Regions from separate parts of the Homo sapiens genome. Here region 2 is linked to region 1. The links come from fine-mapping of genetic effects on gene expression. A gene starts in region 1. The other region holds a variant in brackets. All regions are shown on one strand. Distances are between the middles of the regions.

Evidence for each region. PIP is the estimated chance that this variant, and not a neighbour inherited with it, causes the effect.
Region 2: its variant is fine-mapped to the expression of RGS10 in whole blood (INTERVAL, PIP 0.93).

Annotation. Positions count from the first base shown.
Region 1 is chr10:119,539,031-119,548,831 of GRCh38, reverse strand. RGS10 (regulator of G protein signaling 10) reads left to right here and starts at 6,113. Exons shown (of 5, transcript NM_001005339.2): 1 at 6,113-6,242. The coding sequence starts at 6,194. RefSeq lists enhancers at 4,350-4,858, 5,121-5,200 and silencers at 5,411-5,570, 5,621-5,690, 5,701-6,440, 6,491-6,660.
Region 2 is chr10:119,579,693-119,588,326 of GRCh38, reverse strand. TIAL1 (TIA1 cytotoxic granule associated RNA binding protein like 1) reads left to right here. Exons shown (of 12, transcript NM_003252.4): 2 at 79-175; 3 at 5,770-5,868; 4 at 6,104-6,158; 5 at 6,318-6,405; 6 at 8,317-8,392. Among named protein-coding and RNA genes, the nearest start is that of TIAL1, 13 kb to the left of the region's middle. The variant G/A (reference allele first, on the strand shown) is at 3,584.

The sequences.
Region 1 (9,801 bases):
TAAATGTTAATTTCCATTGTTTTGTTTTGTTTTTTGTTTTGGAGAGAGTAAATTTTTCTAGTACATCTGGCTGCTGGGGAAGGGGCTGAGGAAGAAGGGCCTCCCAATCCTGTGTACAGATCTAGGCTTAACACTCTCTTTGATGCCCACAGCTCATCTGCACCTTTAGCTCAGCCAGTAGTTCATAAGTCCAGAGCTTCTGTACTTCACTATTTCCCAAGATCATTATTTCCTAAGGTAGGTGGCAGGGGAACTGAAGTCTCCTTATATAGACTTCTATCAATCTCCCCTTTTCAGTCCTTGCCTGTCCTCTTCTCTGTGGTCTGTGCCTTTGGGTCAGGAGCTCCTCTGAGGCTCTGCAGGGTGAATTGGCTTGTTCTAACTGGCACGCCCTGCCTGCATTTAGGTTGTAGCTCCTTCCTCTTGTTAAGTGTTTCTGCTTCTCCATCTCCTTTCTGATTGGCTGAAATCTCTCTCCCATTGTTGTCTCCTTTTTCTTTTCTTTCCTTCCTTCCTTCCTCCCTTCCTTCCTCCCTTCCTCCCTTCCTTCCTTCCTTCCTTCCTTCTTTCTTTTCTTTCTTTTTTTTTTTTTTGAGATAGCGTTTCACTCTTGTTGCCCAGGCTGGAGTGCAATGGCACAATCTCGGCCCACCGCAACCTCCGCCTCCCAGGATCAAGCGATTCTCCTGCCTCAGCCTCCCGAGTAGCTGGGATTACAGGCATGTGCCGCCACGCCCGGCTGCAGACATAGACAAGCAAGCTGGATGCTTGCACGGGTGAATGCCGGCAGAAAAAAAGCTACTTGGGACTAGGCATGTTCAGAATGGCGGCTCCATCTTCCCTTGTCTTTGCCAGCCACATGTGTATAAGGAGCAGACAAGATGTCACCAGTCAAGTGGAAAACTCATTTGTGTAGTAAGATTAGGGTGGGGTGGCCAGCCTTCCCTGGGCGCTTTGTAAACGTCACATCTGATCTAACCAATCTGTGGGCCCTATGTAAATCATTCACCGCCTTCTCAAGTCTGCCTATAAAATCCAGTGAACCCCACCACTGTTGGTCTTTCCTTTCGGAAGCCCCTCTCTCTCCCTAGAGAGAGAACTGTTCTCCTTTCTCTTACTCCTGCGTATTAAACTTTCTGCTCCTTAGCCCCACACCCTCCAAAAAAGGTGGGAGTCCTGAGATGGGAAAAGGGTATTTGATATGAACTCTGGATGATAACGATGTGTCATTGTAGGTTCCTTGATTGCACAAAGGTACCTCTCTGGTGTGGGAGGTCATATGCTATAAGAGGCTATGCGTGTTTGGGGCAGGAGGCATGTGGAACTCTACTTTCTGTTCAATTTTGCTGTGAACCTAAAATTGCTCTAAAAATAAAATTTACTTTTGCCAGGTGCAGTGGCTTACGTAATCCCAGCCCTCTGGGAGGCCGAGGTGGGCAGATCACGAGATCAGGAGATGGAGACCAGCCTGGCCAACATGGTGAAATCCCATCTCTATTTATTTATTTGAGACTCCATCTCAAATAAATAAATAAATAAATAAACAAAATTAAAAATAAAAAAATTAATGAATAAATAAATACATACGTACGTACATACATAAGTAGCAGGGTATGGTGGTGCACTCCTGTAGCCCTAGCTACTCAGGAGACTGAGGTAGGGGGACTGCCTGAGCTCAGGAGTTCAAGGCTGCAGTGAGCTATGATCGCAGCACCACACTCCAGCCTGGGCGACAGAACAAGTCCCTGTCTCTAAAAAACAAAACACAAAACTGCAACAGAAATGAAGCCTTATGTATTTTTGTGGCATTAAACCCAGTAGAGATTTCAACTAGTCTCTAATTAGTGATTTTTCTCCCTGATTTAAAAGCACATACACTGCAGAAGTTTGCAAAACAGGAAAATGTAATGAAGAAAAAAGAACCCATTATCCTATTATCTAGAGATATAGTCTAGTAATATTTAGGTGTAATTAACTGCTAGCTTTCTAGGTATAAACATACCGTATTCTCCTCTTCCTCCACACTGAAAATTTTCTCTATATTTGTATCCTGATTTTTCAACGAGAGCTTCGTCTAAGATTCTTTCATCTTTCTCTTTGCACTAGTTTTTTCCACCAAGTTCCAAAGATTCTTCACAGTTTTTTATAACTGTTAAATATTCTATCAGGAGAATATGTTATACCTTAGTCATTCTCTTAGCGGGCATTTTTAGCTACTGTAAATAACCCTGATAAAAGGAAGTGTTATGTTTAATTGTACACGTAAATGTTCGCATCATTTATTGTTTTTCTTTTGGCACAAATTACCAATTATAGAATTATTCACTAGTCCAAGAGGTATAAACATTTTGAAGACTCTTACATGTGTTGTCAAATACATATATTAACACATCTGCTTCTCTTCCTTCTAGAGAGGTTGTAACAATTTACTTTCCCTCCTTCACAGTGTAGTAACAATGTGAACATCAGTGTTACTAACCCTGCCAATTTCCTATAATTGAAAAGAAATCCACTTTTGACTGGCTGTACCATAAAGTTTATCATTTATTAAAACATCATTGTAGGGGGAGTAAGAGTAATTAAAATTCCAGTAATTTTTTGTGTGCCTACATGTGCTGGGCACGATGCCAGATGCTTTTTTGTTTATTGCTATTGAATACCACTTGCTCGGAGTGTAGGTGGACCTCTCCTTGCCCTGTCCCTTGAGGCTACGATGTGTTTGAGGACACATCTGGTGTGTCCACACAGCTGGTTGCTGTTTGGTCAGATTAGTACCCAGGTCTCTTGACTTTAAGTTGGCCACTTATTCATTTTACTATACCTTGTCTGCCTCAACTGGCCTAGAATAGTCTTGTTACATAAATTCTGGTGATGAGAGGCTCTAAAATGTATTCACAGCTTACCAATATTTTAGTTTCTGGGTAGAATGAAAATATTGAACTCCAAAGCCAGTAATCCCTCTGAAATCTTGTGTTACCAGAAGACATCCGGGGCTCTTGCTTCTTGCCTGATGTAAACATCCTTGAACCAAAAGTGAGACCAGCAGGGGAAGAAAGGGGCTAAACCGCTCATCCTCTTCTTCCCCACACTGGCTACCGCAGTTTGTTTGTGAAGGCTTGACTTAGGAGGCTAAGGAGGGAGGATCACTTGAGAGCCCAGAAGTCAGAAATCAGCCTGGACAACATAGTGAAACCTCTGTCTCAAAAAAAAAAAAAAAAAAAAAAAAAAGCTTCAGAAAGTGCATGCTGGAATTACAGGAAAAATGCCATTGGGATGGTGAGCACCTTCAATCCAATGCAAACCACGGTTGGAACTTAATCGTGTGTGTGTGTGTGTGTGTGTGTGTGAGTGTGTGTGTGTATGTGTGTGTGCATTTGGCGAGTTTTAGGAGTTAGGAGGCTTTATACTTTTATACGTGGTCTTTTGCACAATACACTTTGAAAACTGGCTTTTGAACCTTCAGACACTTAAAACAGGTATTTATAGCAATTTCAATGTCCCAGGCAAAAATTTTAAACTGTGCACTTAAACGTTAACCATGCATTTTTTTTTTTTTTTTTTTTGAGATGGAGTCTTGCTCAGTCACCCAGGCTGGAGTGCAATGGCTCGATCTCAGTTCACTGCAAACTCTGCCTCCCGGGTTCAAGCGATTCTCCTGCCTCAGCCTCCTGAGTAGCTGGGATTACAGATGCCTGCCACCGCGCCTGGCTAATTTTGTATTTTTAGTAGAGATGAGGTTTCACCATGTTCGTCAGGCTGGTCTCGAACTCCCGACCTCAGGTGATCCGCCCGCCTTGGCCTCCCAAAGTGCTGGGATTACAGGTGTGAACCACCGCACCCGGCCTTTTTTTCCTTTTTTTGGAGACAGAGTCTTGCTCTGTGGCCCAGGCTGGAGTGCAGTGGTGAGATCTCAGCTCACTGCAACCTCCTCCTTCAGATCTTGGCTCACTGCAACCTCCTCCTCCCAGGCTCAAGTGATTCTTCTGTGTCAGCCTCCTGAGTAGCTGGGATTACAGGCACCTGCCACCAGGCCTGGCTAATTTTTGTATTTTTAGTACAGATGGGGCTTCACCATGTTAGCCAGGCTGGTCTTGAACTCCTGACCTCAGGTAATCCGCCTGCCTCTGCCTCCCAAAGTGCTGGGATTACAGACGTGAGCCACAGCGCCTGGCCCTAACTATGCATCTTAATTTTTGTACTTACTCTCTGATGTGCTAACAGGACAGTAAAAGTGATTTAAGGCTGTTATATTTTCCCTTTATTTAAGAGATGCCTGGGGTTCTTAGCTCAGGAGGGATTCATAGCATGTCTTAAGCCACACCAGTGTTTTTCAGGACACGCTAGGGTGGACTTGGCAACTAGCAAAACACTGAGCTGCTGTGCCTAACTTTTACCCCTGTGTGCCAGTGTGCTTATTTCCTGTCTTAGGATTACTTGTAATTTGGTCTCGGGGAAGTTTTCTGGGTGAGTGCGTTGCACCAATTCCCTTATTGTTTTAAGAACGCAGTGACCTCACTTGGATCCAGGACTCTGCCAGCATTTAAAATCCCGCTCTTACGAAAGGTGAAACTCTTGCCTATAGTTAAGTATCACAGCTTGATCCCATTACAATGAGATGGAAGTTTGTCTGGGCCCGGAGTAGGCCAACAACAGCAGTTTTAAAAGCAGAACTCCCCGCGCTGGGTCTAACCCTGTTCTTGGTCACCGCGTTCGCTTCAGGAGCCTGGAAATCCTCTTTTGGCAGCAGAAGGGGGAGAGTGCTTGGAAATGCTCGGAGGAAAACGACTTTTGGAGGGGGAATAGCGGGGAGGGAAACAACAAGCAACCACCGGCCACACTTGGGGTGCAACTGGGGCTGTGGGGTGGGTAGAGGGAGAGGGAAAGTGAGCAGAACTGGAAGCTCAGAATAGAAGATACAAAAGAAAGTGCCAAGTAGTGAAAAAAACTGCAAAAGGACGGGGGGATGGGGGGAGGGCGACTGGGGAACGGTTTGGAAAAATAGCAATTAGTACAGCTAAAAATAAAGACCAATTTAGAGACAAAGCCAGATACACAAGGAGAAAAATAAAACTCGCCAGAAAGACAATTTCTTGCAAACCAAATGTTCAAGAAAATGGGGGCTAATGACATCCCCTCTGGGGCTGCTCCATAGAAGAAATGAAATAATAGGAGACCGTAGAGCGCGCAGCGCCCAGCAGGTGACGCCGTGGGGGCTTGAGTGGTCCCGGTCGTGGAGCCTGAAGGCCCTGCCAGAGGCAGTGCCCACGTGTCCCCAAAGTTAGAGAAGTGTCCCGAGAGCGCGGTGTGCGGGACAGAGCACCGCCCGGCGCAGGAACCGGGGGGTTCCTGCAGAATCCTCTCAGATCTCCCCGAGTCCTGGCGCCCGCGCGGCACGGCCGGGGAGAGGGCGCCCACCCGCGGCGGCTCGGCTAGCTCAGCGCACGGGCCCTGGGGACGCCCCACCCGCATTCGCGGGGCGGGAAGGCGCAGCGCCCACGAAGTCGAGGAGCAGCCAGGCCCCAGCAGGCGGGGATCCTGGTGACGAGGAGGCAAAGGCCACAGGCTGGGCCGCGCCCGGACTCTGCAGAACCGCGAGGCCTAGGCTTCCCAGCCTGTGACCCGGGAGGGGACCCCGCCCGCCACCTGCGAAGGCTCGCTGAGAGCCCCGAAGCGCGGTGCGCCCGCGGCGCCGTGCCAGTTTCTCCGGGGCTACAGGGAGAAGGCGGGAGACCGCGATGGGCCCGGGAGCTTGAAGCTGGGCGGGGCGGGCCGGGGCGGCATCTCAGGCGAGGGCCAGGGACCCCGGGACGCGCTAACCGCCTCCGCGGGGCTACTAAGTTCCCGGCGGCGCGGGCTCCCTCTGGGCCAGTGCACCTTATCCCAGGCGCGGGGCACACTCTGGGCGATCGGGGGTCACCCGGGGCTGCCCTGCCCTGCCCCGCCCGGGCACCCCGGAGCGGAACCGCGAGTCCTCACCAGCGGGGGCGGGCAGGGCGCACTGAGCGCGCCACGCGGCGCCTGGCTAGGAGGAGGGCGGCGGGCGGGGACCTAGAGCTCCGGGGCGGTGCTGAGCCCGCTCCTCCTCCTTGCCCTCCTCCTCCTCCTCCTCGCCCTCCTCCTCCTCCTCGCCTTCCTCCGGCTCAGCCGCCGCGCCGCCGGGCTGCTCCTTCTTCCTCCTCGGGCGCCCGCGGCGATGTTCAACCGCGCCGTGAGCCGGCTGAGCAGGAAGCGGCCGCCGTCAGGTAAGCGGCTTCGGGGGCCCGCGGGCTCGGGGTCGGGGCGCCGTTTCGCCCGCCCGGCCTCCTGCCCTCCCTCTTGTGCTCGGGCGCGGCTCGGTGGTACCTCCCAGACTGGAGCCCCGGCCGACCGCACCACCTCTCCCCGCTGGGTACCGCACCTTCGCGGTCCCAGCCGCGACGGGAGCGCAGAGCTCCTCCGGGAGCCCCGGGGAGGAAGTTTGGCTGAAAGAGGAACAGCCGCAGTTTTCTTTTTAGTGATGGTCTGGGAGAAAAAGGAGCGCCCCAAATCTCCAAACTTTGGAGGTGACATGGGGCTCCAGATTCCGAAAGCGGAACGGCGCGCGGGCTTCTCCCTCCGTGACGCTCTCCGCCTCCGCTGCGGGCGTGGGTGGAAGGATGCCGAGCGCCCGGGGGAGCACGGCTGGACCCGGGCATCCGACTGGGCCCCTGGGCCTGGGGCGTCGGGGGCCTTCGCTTCTGCCGCGAGGAGCCAAAAGGTGGGATCGCGAGGGTGGCGGAACCCCAGGATGGAGAAGGGCACTTCTGCGGTCCGAGCCAGCGAAGTTCTGACGTTACGAAGGATTCGCCTTGGCCGTCACTTTGGGCCAGCCTGAGCCACGATCTCGGGCAACTTGATAGGCCAAAGACCCCACGGTGAAGGTGGAGCCGTGCCCTTGATTCCGGTCCTTCCACCCTTTTGCTCATCACAATAGCTACGACCTGTGCAGGCCTTTGGGTGCGCCAAGGGCTTTGTCCACCGCGTTGGGTGAACTCTCCCTTCACCCCTAGGACAACCCGGTGAGTGAGGAGGGAGCGGAAGCCAGGCGCTGTTAGGTAACTTGCCCCAGTCACACTCCGCAGGTGATGGGGAGGCTTTCAAACCCAGGTTCCCCTGACTCTGAAGTTCGGGGGCTTTGCCGGGCTTCCCACGCCAAGATTCACTTCTGCTTGGCGCTCAGAGTCCCAACGCGTTGGTGCATTTCCTTTCTGCTCCTGGTATTTTATGAGGGACATTGTGGTTTAGAGACTGGGACCAGACTGGCTGGATCCGAATCTCACCTTCGCCATATTCACCAGCCGTGGGACCTTTCTGCAGAATGAGGTTCTGCACAGTGGGAATAACAGTAGCTACTCGCCTTTTAAAGTACTTAATTGGAACCTGTCTTCCATCCATCAGGTTTTGCAAATTATTGTATTTAATATGTAGGATTTCATAGGGTTGTTGTAATGATCTTACATTGTTGCCCGGCAAGTACTAAGTGCTCCGTTAGCGTTAGTGGTCATGTAAACCTTTTTGTGTTGCATGTGAGTCAAAGAATTCCCTTGTGGGTGTTAATGTTAACCAGTCTCTATGGTTGGCACAGGCCTGTGGAGCGCTGCTCAGAGCCTGGACTCGAATTAAACTCTTGGTTCTAACCTTGACTCTGTCATTCAGCAACACTGGGCAAATTACTTGATCTCTCTGTGCCTCCGTTTCAGTGATGTGCTGGAGCTGGCTCAAACTGGCTTGCAAGAGCCAGTTGCCAAATATTCAAAAAGTTTGGAAACTGGTTGTAAACCATAGGTAGCTTGAAAGTAGTTATGATGGGATATTTACATCATGAAAATCAACAAAGCTAAAAATGAAGGCTTCATTTTGACTCAGGAGAGCTGATGTTCCAGCACCTTTCTCCACCTGCAAAGTGGGTTTCATAGGGTTATGGGATTAAATACTCAAAACCATATGAAGCCCCTAGTACAATGTGTGGCACATAATAAAAGTGTAATAATTAGTAGCTTTTCTCCCTTTTGCCTGTTATAAATAGAGCTGCTATGAATAGCCCTGTACGCGTTACTTATTACTTTAGATTGCTTTTGGGTTGAAGACTGACAGATAGAACCATTGTATCCTGGGAGATACATGGATTTGGGGTGATTTTGCGTGTAGCCAGGTTGCACCCCAAAAAGGCTGAAGGCAGTTTTAGGGAACAAATTATTTCAGGGCAACAAATTTTAAACCTCATAAAATGTGGTTACATCACTGACAGAAAGGTCGGTCTCAGGCCGGGCTCAGTGGCTCACACCTGTGATCCCAGCACTTTGGGAGGCTGAGGCAGGAGGATTGCTTGAGCCCAGGAGTTCCAGATAAGCCTGGGAAACATGGCAAAACCCCGTCTCTACAAAAAAATTAAAAAATTAGCCAGGCATGGTGATGCGTGCCTGTAGTCCCAGCTCCTTAGACGGCTGAAGTGAGAGGATGGCTTGAGCCTGGGAGGTTGAGGCTACAGTGAGCTTAGATCGTGCCACTGCACTTCACCCTGGGTGACAGAGTGAGATCCAAAGAAAAGGAAAGAAGGAAGGAAGGGAGGAAGGAAGAAAAAAGGAAGGAAGGAAGGAAGATCAGCCACTAAACATCATGGATTGGTACTGGATGCCTCCACTCCAATAGCCTGATTTTCTTTGGAATTGTAGGTGTAGGGTCTTTCCCCATTATGGAAAATAACATAAGTTCTTGCCTGACTGGTCATCACCACCCAGCCGTGTGAAAAGAAGAAGCCTAGTGAGAAAGGGGTCATTTGGGCCTGTGGGCCGAGGTACTGAGAAGACAGCCAAGTGATTTTTGGGACCCTGTACTTAATTTTTTTTTTTTTTTTGTAATTTTGAATTATTTTTCTTAAAGAGGATCCTCAAATTGTATAAACTTCAGGCTCCACAAAAGCCAGAGCTGCTCCTGCAGGACCCCTGATTTGGACCTGGCTGTGGTCCTGCCTCCCCCAGTACCTTCTATTTTACACTTTTCCTACCTTTCAGCAAAATCTCACTGGAGACACTGTCTTTCCGCGGAGGATTTTGAGTTCCTAACCCCTCCTTCCAAGGTTCAGAGTGGGATTTCCTTATTCTTCCTGAGGTTTCTCAAAGTGTGTTCCACCCGTCCTGTGGGTTCAGGAGGGCTTTGATAAAGTGCAGCTTCTCAGGCCTTGCCCAGACTGATTCAGTGTTGGGGACTGTAGGTGGGGCTTGTCTTTGACAAGCACCCCAGAGAATTCTCAGGCCAGTGAAATGTGAGGGTCCCCCAACGGGATTCTGTCCACTCACCCTGCCCAGTTATCAACCTTGCATTGTTGATAGCTGAAATATGCCCATCTGAGATGCCAAGCTGAAGCCACCCGACTCCCTACCCCTGCAGCTGCACCCAGGGGTGACCTCTCAGGGGAATTCCCACCCTGCCGGGCAGGTTTCGGCCGTCCCCTCGGGCCTGTCATACAGGATCCGATTAAACCCTTGGGAACAGTTTTAAGTTTATGGCTGGGCTTGTTTTATTTAAAGATGACAGTTTGCACAGCAATTTAATGTCTTTGTTTTAACAACTCGGCAGCAGGGTAGCCTTGGCAGCTGGGACAACTTTCTCTGCAGAATATCACTGGCCCAGGCCTGGGGGGACAGAGGGGCCAGCCGAAGGGCCTTGTTTTCTATAGGTGTGGTCAGCTTATGAGCCAGTTGAGCCTCTGGGACCTGCTCTGGGCACCACCTAGTGCAGCCCGTAGCCTGGTGGGTGTGAGGTGCTCACGGTGTTTTATCTCTG
Region 2 (8,634 bases), 40 kb before region 1:
GGTGATGAATTAGATGATAACACATTAGAGCCAGAGCTAAAGGAAAAATTGCTGATAACGTATTTTTTTCTTGTGCAGATACGTAGGTAACCTTTCCAGAGATGTGACAGAAGTCCTTATACTTCAGTTGTTCAGTCAGATTGGACCCTGTAAAAGCTGTAAAATGATAACAGAGGTAAGATCTTCCCAGTTCCATGTGCTGACAATTAGCATGATGGGTTGATTAGCATGATTTTAAAATTTCATTGTAAGCCTCAAGTTATTCTGGTGGAGAGATTTGTGTTGTGTTGACTTATTACTTTGATTTGGCTGACAAACTAGGCTTAGAATGGAGTTTTATTTAAGAGGGCAAAGTTTCCGTGCTGTTAAGCTCAAACGGTCATTCTTCATGGTGTGGTTATCTTGAAGTGATTCTGCTTTCAGAACATTATTAGAGCTCATTTCAGAATGGTGAAAAATTGGAAAGTATTTCATACAATTCCAATAAGAATGTTAACGATTTAGACAGCATGTGTTCATGTGCGAGAACACGAAGTTATTATGTGTGTAGTGTGCAGCACCGTTCGTCTCGTGTGTCTGTAGCAAATACTTACCTTTTTATACTTTCCTGCTAAGACTGTAGCAGCACCCAATTAGTCATGTTTTAGGCTTTTCTTCCTTGTGTTTTTGTTCATTGATCAGCTTTCTTTTTTTTTTTTGGACTATTTCCTATGTACTAGATACTGCAGTAAGTGCTAGAGATACACTGGTGAATAAAGATAGTTCCTTGGCCCAGAGAATTTTACAGTTTAGTAGGGAGACAAAGGAGTTAGCAGGCACTTAGGAAGTAGGATAATAAATGCTCTAGAAGCAGACAACTTAAAGTGCTGTGGGAGCAAATGTGTATCCAGTGCAGCCTTAGGTCAGTGAGCGGCTTCTTGGAGGACTCACTGCCTAGGCGGAAACCTTGAAAGGATAGTAGTACATACTGGCTAGAAAGGAATTGAGGGAAGAAGGGATTCCAAATAAAGGGAACTTTGATCCAGGTTGGTAGGGAGAGCAGGAGTGCTTGAGACAGAGAGGGAAAAATAGAACCCGTAGCATGGTTGTAGTTAAAATGGAATTAGTCGTAAGAGATGGCAGGAGTTTATGGAAAGGGCTAGAAACTGTGCTAAAGAGTTTGTTTTATCCTGAAACGGAGAACTGTTAAAAACCTTTAAAGTGCATTGGCCTTTTGATTGTCTTTCCCAAGTAATGACAATCATCATTTTGTTCTGGTGTATTATATTTTTCCTTCCTGCCTTTAATTATTTATTTGTGCTTTCATCGATCAAAAATTTCCTTTGCACTAGGCACTATACAAGGTACTGGAGATATAATGGAGAGACAGCCAAATGAGTTTCCCAAGCAAATAGGGATGTAAGCCATGAAGAGAATAAAACAGAGTTCTGTGATGATTGGAGGGTTGGTGCTATATAGGCTAGGTGATGAGAGATGTCACCTCTTTGAGCTGAGATGAATAACAAGATGGTGCTATCTATGGTAAGAGCTGGAGGCAGAGGAAACAGCAAATACAAGTCTTGAGTTGGTAATGAACTTGTGTTTGTGGAATCAAAGACCGATGGCTAGAGTCTGGTGAGGGATGGAGGGGAGTTAAGGGAAATGAGTCTAACAGCAGGATTCAGAATCACAGGACATTATGGTCCATGACATAGTTTAGGTTTTACTCTGATTGCTGTGGCAGACCAGTGGAGGGGCTTAAGCAGGGGGATGAGGTGCCAAGATTTGCATATTTAAGCTTACTACTCTATGTAGAGAATGACTGTTTTATGGAGAATAGATTGTAGCGGGCAAGAGCAGAAGGAGAAAAACCATCTGGATTTACTTCACTAGTCTAGGTAAGAGATGATGGAGGCTTATTCTCGAAAGTGCTAGCCGAAGTCAAGATAAGGACAGAGGTTGATAGATTTGGAATATATTTTGGAGGTAGAATTGATAGGACTGGGTTGGCTGTGGGACATAGGGAAAGGAAGAAATCAGGAAATACCCTAAGATTCATGTTAATGCAGTTGTATAGTTGGTAATGCTATTTATTTGCTAAAGTGGGGGTGACCTGATGGATGTCACCATGGGGAGTGGTGGGAATCAGAAATTGTGTTTTGGATGTTAGATTTAAGACATGAATTAGACATCAAAGTGGACGTTAGATTAGGCAGTTGGATAAAGTAGTTTGCAACTCTAGAGAGACCGGTGCTGAAGCTTGCAGTGGTATTTGAATCCATGAAGCCATGGGACTAGATGAGTTCACAGAGAGAGAATGATGGTAAAGAAGAGCACAGAGGCCGTGAGGTCTGAGCCCTGGACAAGCTCAACATTTAGAGTTTGAGTAAGGGAAGAAAGATCCTACAGTGAGGAAACAGGAAAACCAGAGTGTGGTAGGAGACAGAAGAGAATGTTTAAAGGAGGATGGTGGTCAACTGTAGTGAATTCTGCTTGGAAGTAAAGATTAGGATGGAAAAGGAATCACAGAAGCAGCAGAGAGGTCATTGTTGAGCTCAACATGCAGTTTCAGTGGCATGGTTAGCTTGGAAGCTGACAGAAGTAGGTTTAGGAGAGAACGGGTTGTGAGAAAGTGGGGAAAGACTCACTAGAAAATTTTTGAGAAACATTTGTAAAGATTTATTTTAACTATTTTTTAAAACCCCATGTATACATACAGCTATTTGAAGGGTAGAGGGACTCGAAATGAATTTTCATAACATCCATATTCTAGAACTCCTAGATTTGAGCTTGTAAAGTCTCATATTTCTCTGTCTTGACATTTATGTCATCCAACAAAAATTGGTGACAACGCTAAATAAGGTAGGGACATAACGGATTTTTTTTTTTTTTTTTTAAGAGACAGGGTCTGACTCTGTCCTCCAGGCTGGAGTGCAGTGGCGCCATCATGGCTCACTGCAGCCTCCACCTCCTGGGTTCAAGTGATCCTCCCACCTCAGTCTCCCAAGTAGCTGGGACAGCACCGCCACACCTAGTTCATTTTTAAATGTGTTTGTAGAGATTGGTTTCACCATGTTACCAATGGTCCCGAACTTCTGGCTGGTCCTAAACTCCTAGGCTCAAGTGATCCTCCTGCCTCTGCCTCATCCTCCTAAAGTGCTGAGATTATAGGCATGAGACACTGCACCCAGCCATAATTGATTTTTTTTTTTTTTTTTTTTTTTTGAGATGGAATCTTGCTCTTTTGCCCAGGCTGGAGTGCAATGGCATGATCTCGGCTCACTGCAGCCTTGGCCTCCTGGGTTCAAGTGATTCTCCTGCCTCAGCCTCCCAAGTAGCTGGGACTACAGGTGCGTGCCATCATGCCCAGCTAATATTTTTTATTTTTTTATTTTTTGTATTTTTAATAGAGACAAGGTTTCACCATATTAGCCAGGATGGTCTTGATCTTCTGACCTCGTGAACCGCCCACCTCGCCCTCCCAAAGTGCTTGGGTTACAGGCGTGAGCACTTTTTTTTGAGACAGAGTCTGGCTCTGTTGCCCGGGCTGGAGTGCAGTGGCACGATCTTGGCTCACTGCAACCTCTGCCTCCCAGGTTCAAAC[G/A]ATTCTCCTGCCTCAGCCTCCTGAGTAGCTGGGATTACAGGCGCCCGCCACCACACCCAGCTAATTTTTTGTATTTTTGGTAGAGATGGGGGTCTCACCATGTTGGTCAGGCTGGTCTCGAACTCCTGACCTCAAGTGATCCAGCTGCCTCAGCCTTCCAAAGTGCTGGGATTACAGGTGTGAGCCACTGCACCCAGCCCATAATTGATTTTTAGGATGTCACTTGGTGGTGTAAATAAGAAGCTTCCAGAGGGTATAAACTCTAGCAGAGTATCTAGCAGCTATTTATTTTTCTTTCATAAATTTCATTTCAGTATGTGAAAAATCCTTTTTCCCCCATAGTTTTATGATTTTTTTTTTACTTTAGATGTTGTTATCATAGATTCTAGCTTTCCTTATATAATACAAATATATATTATTGATTCTAAGTCAAATTTTTTTAGAATTTTAATATCTGACAGTTGGGATGTGACTTAGAAATAAGTGGTGTCTTAAATTAGATGATATGCAGTGTGATGTGAATATATAAAATATGTGATGTCAGTGAATATATGTGTATATATACATGCACGTGCATACATTGATTGGGAGCTGGCCTACTATTAGATAGATTTGAAATTGGTATTCACGAGTAGACTAGTTTCCTAAAGTGTATGGGATTATCATAGATCTGCTGTTGGACCCCTGTATGTTTTGCTGTGATTATCAGTGTTTTCCTTAGAGACCATTGGGGCAAAAGAGATAGGAGTGAAAGGAAAACTCAACTAGCACAATTTTAGCCTCTTATTTATTTTGATGTCCTTTCTTCAATGAATATTTATGGTAAATGTAATAACTCTTTTACAAGAATTTAAATGTGTGTTTTCATTTGAAGTCTTCCCCCATTTCCTTTCTTTACCTCTTAAGAACAGCATTCACGTGGCTACAACAGTAGGATTTTGTATGAGAGCCCATAGTTTTGTTGTCAGTATTAACGATCCCACTTTTTTTCCCTCAAGGAAATGCCTTCTGGTTCCTTTGCCACTATTGTTTAGACGTCTTATTTTGGATTTTTCTTCTAAAACTTTCCTGGAATGAAAAACTGTTGTGGTTGAAAAGATCTTTATTTTATCTGGTATATTTATCCCTTGTAAGTCCAACTAGAATTCCACATTTTAAATATTATTCTTATAGGGCATTTTACATTGAATAATGATGAATGTTTTTAGCCTTACATAAAAATATGTATTTGTACAGTTGTGCAGCTATTCAGTACAGGTTGCAGTTTCATAGAAATTCATTTCTAGTTTGGTTGTCAGGTGAGAATGTTGCTATAGCTTAGGTAGTACTACTTTCTTCACATCTTTATAAATGTGTTTTAGGTAACTACTGTCAAGCACAGGGTTGCAGAATATATTTAATATAGATTTTTTATATGGTGTTCTTATGATGTAAACTTATAGCTTTGTCTTGGAATATTTTATTCAGATACATTTTCAGAACCTCTTTTCTTGATCACCACTGTTATTTCTCTGATCTTTGGAAGACCAAATTCAAAGTATATAGAATCTTCAGTACATTAGACTATTTTGGAAGGTAGGGAATTCATTTCAGTAGCTGGTTATAAAGCTTAAGTTTTCTTGTTTTTATTTTCATTCTTTCCATATCCAGAAAAGAAATCAATAAAATTCAGTCTTTGTAGCAGCATAGAATTCCATCATTTGTAGTATTGATCCTAATTTTGATCAGTAGTTTATGAAGTTGGTTCTTGCTGTATTTCTGTATCCTGGGATACCACTTATAGAGGATTATGATGCATAAGTAGAACGTAATTTAAAAATAATATTGGAGAAGGAAAGTAGTGGTAAGGAGTGGTCCTCATCAGATCTGAGTTTGAGGTTTTGTTTGGTTTAATATAATCTTCTATTTTATATTTAACACACTTCACCAGAATTCTTTATTTTCATTTAATACTGATGCTCATGATTCTACAACTGCTTTTATAGTTCCGTTTGAGTTCAGCAGTATTCTGAGGTGCAAAGTCAGGTTTAGCTTTAAATCTTATTTAAAAAGTGTTAGGCTTTCATAAGCTTATGCAGTCTCACCTTGTATATTCCCAGCTATCAGTAATGTTTTTTCCTGGATTTTCTTCTCAGCAACCCGATAGCAGAAGGGTCAACTCTTCTGTTGGATTTTCTGTTTTGCAGCATACAAGCAATGACCCATATTGCTTTGTGGAATTTTATGAACACAGAGATGCAGCTGCTGCATTAGCTGCTATGAATGGGAGAAAAATTTTGGGAAAGGTAAGATAATAGGATGATGGCACCTTATGAGTACATATATTTGCATGTCAAACTAGTTTGTATTCTTTCTAGGCAAATTTTTGAGCAGATATTCGGCTGCTGAGTGATGGTTTTGCTTTATTCAGCTTAGTGCTTTTACAAAAATAACCCTGCTTGATAAATGATTTAATAAGTGGTAAGTGTTGTAACTCATGACATGCCTAATAATTTTATTAAATATAATCTTTATTTTTAGGAGGTCAAAGTAAACTGGGCAACCACACCAAGTAGCCAGAAAAAAGATACTTCCAGTAAGTACTCCTGCTGCATTTTACTGTGGAAGAGTTCTGAAATTATCCAGGAGGCATTACCAGCTTAAATAGGTTTTTTTTTCCTCCTCTAGAGTTGCCTTAAAAAGGTTTTAGTGGCTGACTTCTTAAGTATTTGATTACCAAATGCTCTGATTTCAGATCACTTCCATGTGTTTGTTGGGGATTTGAGTCCAGAAATTACAACAGAAGATATCAAATCAGCATTTGCCCCCTTTGGTAAAATATCGTAAGTATCATAATCAGTACTACACTCAGTCATGATAGGCAGAATTGTATATGATTAACTTGTAATTGAATTAAGATTTTCTTTCTCTAGTTAGTATGGTTTTGTTTTGTTTCTTATTTTTCATTTATTTATTTTGGTTTGTTTTGAGTAGTGGATGTTGTTGAAAATGTTAATGTCATTTCAGTGTCTTGGGGTCTCGTTTTCATCTAATCCTGTGTATAATATGTTAAAAAAAATTTAAGTGATTCTGTTTGTTATCTTTGAAGCAGATGTTTGAATGGTAAAACTTATAAAGTCTAGCTTTTTGTCATATGTTTTCAAAATTTGATGGTTTAGGATAATGAGTTAATCAAAAGTAAATGTGATCTATACTGTGTAAGAGTTCAATAACTTTTATAGGAGGAATTTATAAATGGGGGAGAGTAGGTAAATCCTTGGATATATTGTGATTAAATTGGAAATGTTCATGTTTTATTATGATAAATGTGTTTTTGATATTTTAGCTATAAGTGAAAAGTACTATTATACTATTAAAATGTTTCAATGTATGAGTCATAAATGTGGGATTAATTAGATGTTTTTGTTAGTGATATTTGATTCTACTAGTTAAGAGGCAAATGTGGTTTGATTTTTAACAAATTTATGCTCAGATTTTACTGTTGTTACTTGGTAAAAAATATATTGGAAAACTAAAAATGGTTATGAATTGTAGAAAATGTTTATCATAATTTATCTTTCTGATTAAAATCAGTTTATTTTGTATATTTCCTGTAGATTTAAATTAAACATCTTAGTACTACTTTACAGGAAAGTGTTTCAACTAAGAACAACAATATTTTCTCTATACAATTTGTTGTTCTATAGATTTAATTTCTTTAAAAGATGTAATTCTTAACTTTCTGTTTTGATATTTGCTTTGCTTTTTAATCTAAATGTGGTAAGTAGTACTATTTTAAAAATCAATATAAAAATAATACAGGTTGCTGTTTTTCAATCTTTATTTATACCTGAGACCTGCAGTTTTTCTTAAGTCCAAGTCACAATTAAAAGTAATAGCATTCTGGTTATTTTGCAGAATTGCTCATAAGAATGGACAGGATCTTGAAGGCTAACTGCAAGGAACTGTGCACACTGGAACTCAGTTGTAGATTTTTTTTCTCATTTCTATTTATTCTTATTATACATTATTTATATATACATATTTTAGTATTTACATTTTAACATTCTATATTCAGTGGAGTTCTATATTTCCAATCATTTAACTTACTCACTAAAATTTCTGTGTAAATTTGTTGTTTTCGTACTGGTGTGCTTAGCATTGTTGTTAGTTTTTTATTCTCCTTTCTTAAATTTCTGAAAATGTCAATTTTTCAAAATTTACAGCTGCCCAAACTCCAAAATGATGGTAGAGAATTGACCAAGAAAAATAAAGAAATCTGTTAACAGGCCATGTATGCCTTTTTAATTCCTATTTTTTCCTCTTTTTCAATTTTTTAATATTTCATATATTTTGTATCACTAGGCAGAAGACATTTAACTATTTAGAGATTGCATGGTAAAGTAGTTAGTATTGTTACAGTAATTTATAGAATCAGTAAACCTTAGAGGACACTAGTAAATAGAATATTAGAAAGGGAAACTGTTGTTCCTATTAATCTTCAAATTTGAGCATTTAGTTTAGAAAGCACAGGCTATTTGATTAGGTTGCATGTTTATTACATGTTTTTGTCCTACTGCTTTTTTCTAACAGGTAAAGAAGCATTAGGGAGAGTTCAGGAATGGTTGTAGTTAATTAGGGCTAACTGGAATTTTATTTTAAAAATGCTCACAATACAGTGTGTGTGGTTCCTTTTAGTTTTTATTTTGAGGGTGGCTCTTACTTCCCTCATTTAGCTGTGCTTCTTTTCACAGGGATGCCCGGGTAGTTAAAGACATGGCAACTGGAAAATCCAAAGGCTATGGTTTTGTATCTTTTTATAACAAACTGGTACGTTCTTCCATCTCAATTTATATTTTTTAATACTAAATTTAGTCATTAGTTACTTAATGTATTGAATCTGAAACTTGAATATACTTGAATGTTAACTACAAACACAACTTTTATGTAATGTTATGTATGTTTTAATAATAGAGTATAATTTCATTCCTCTTTCATAAACTCGAAAATAAATAGCTAGAAAAAGAATGATTATACTATAAGGAAGATTATTAAAATTGTGTTTGTACATT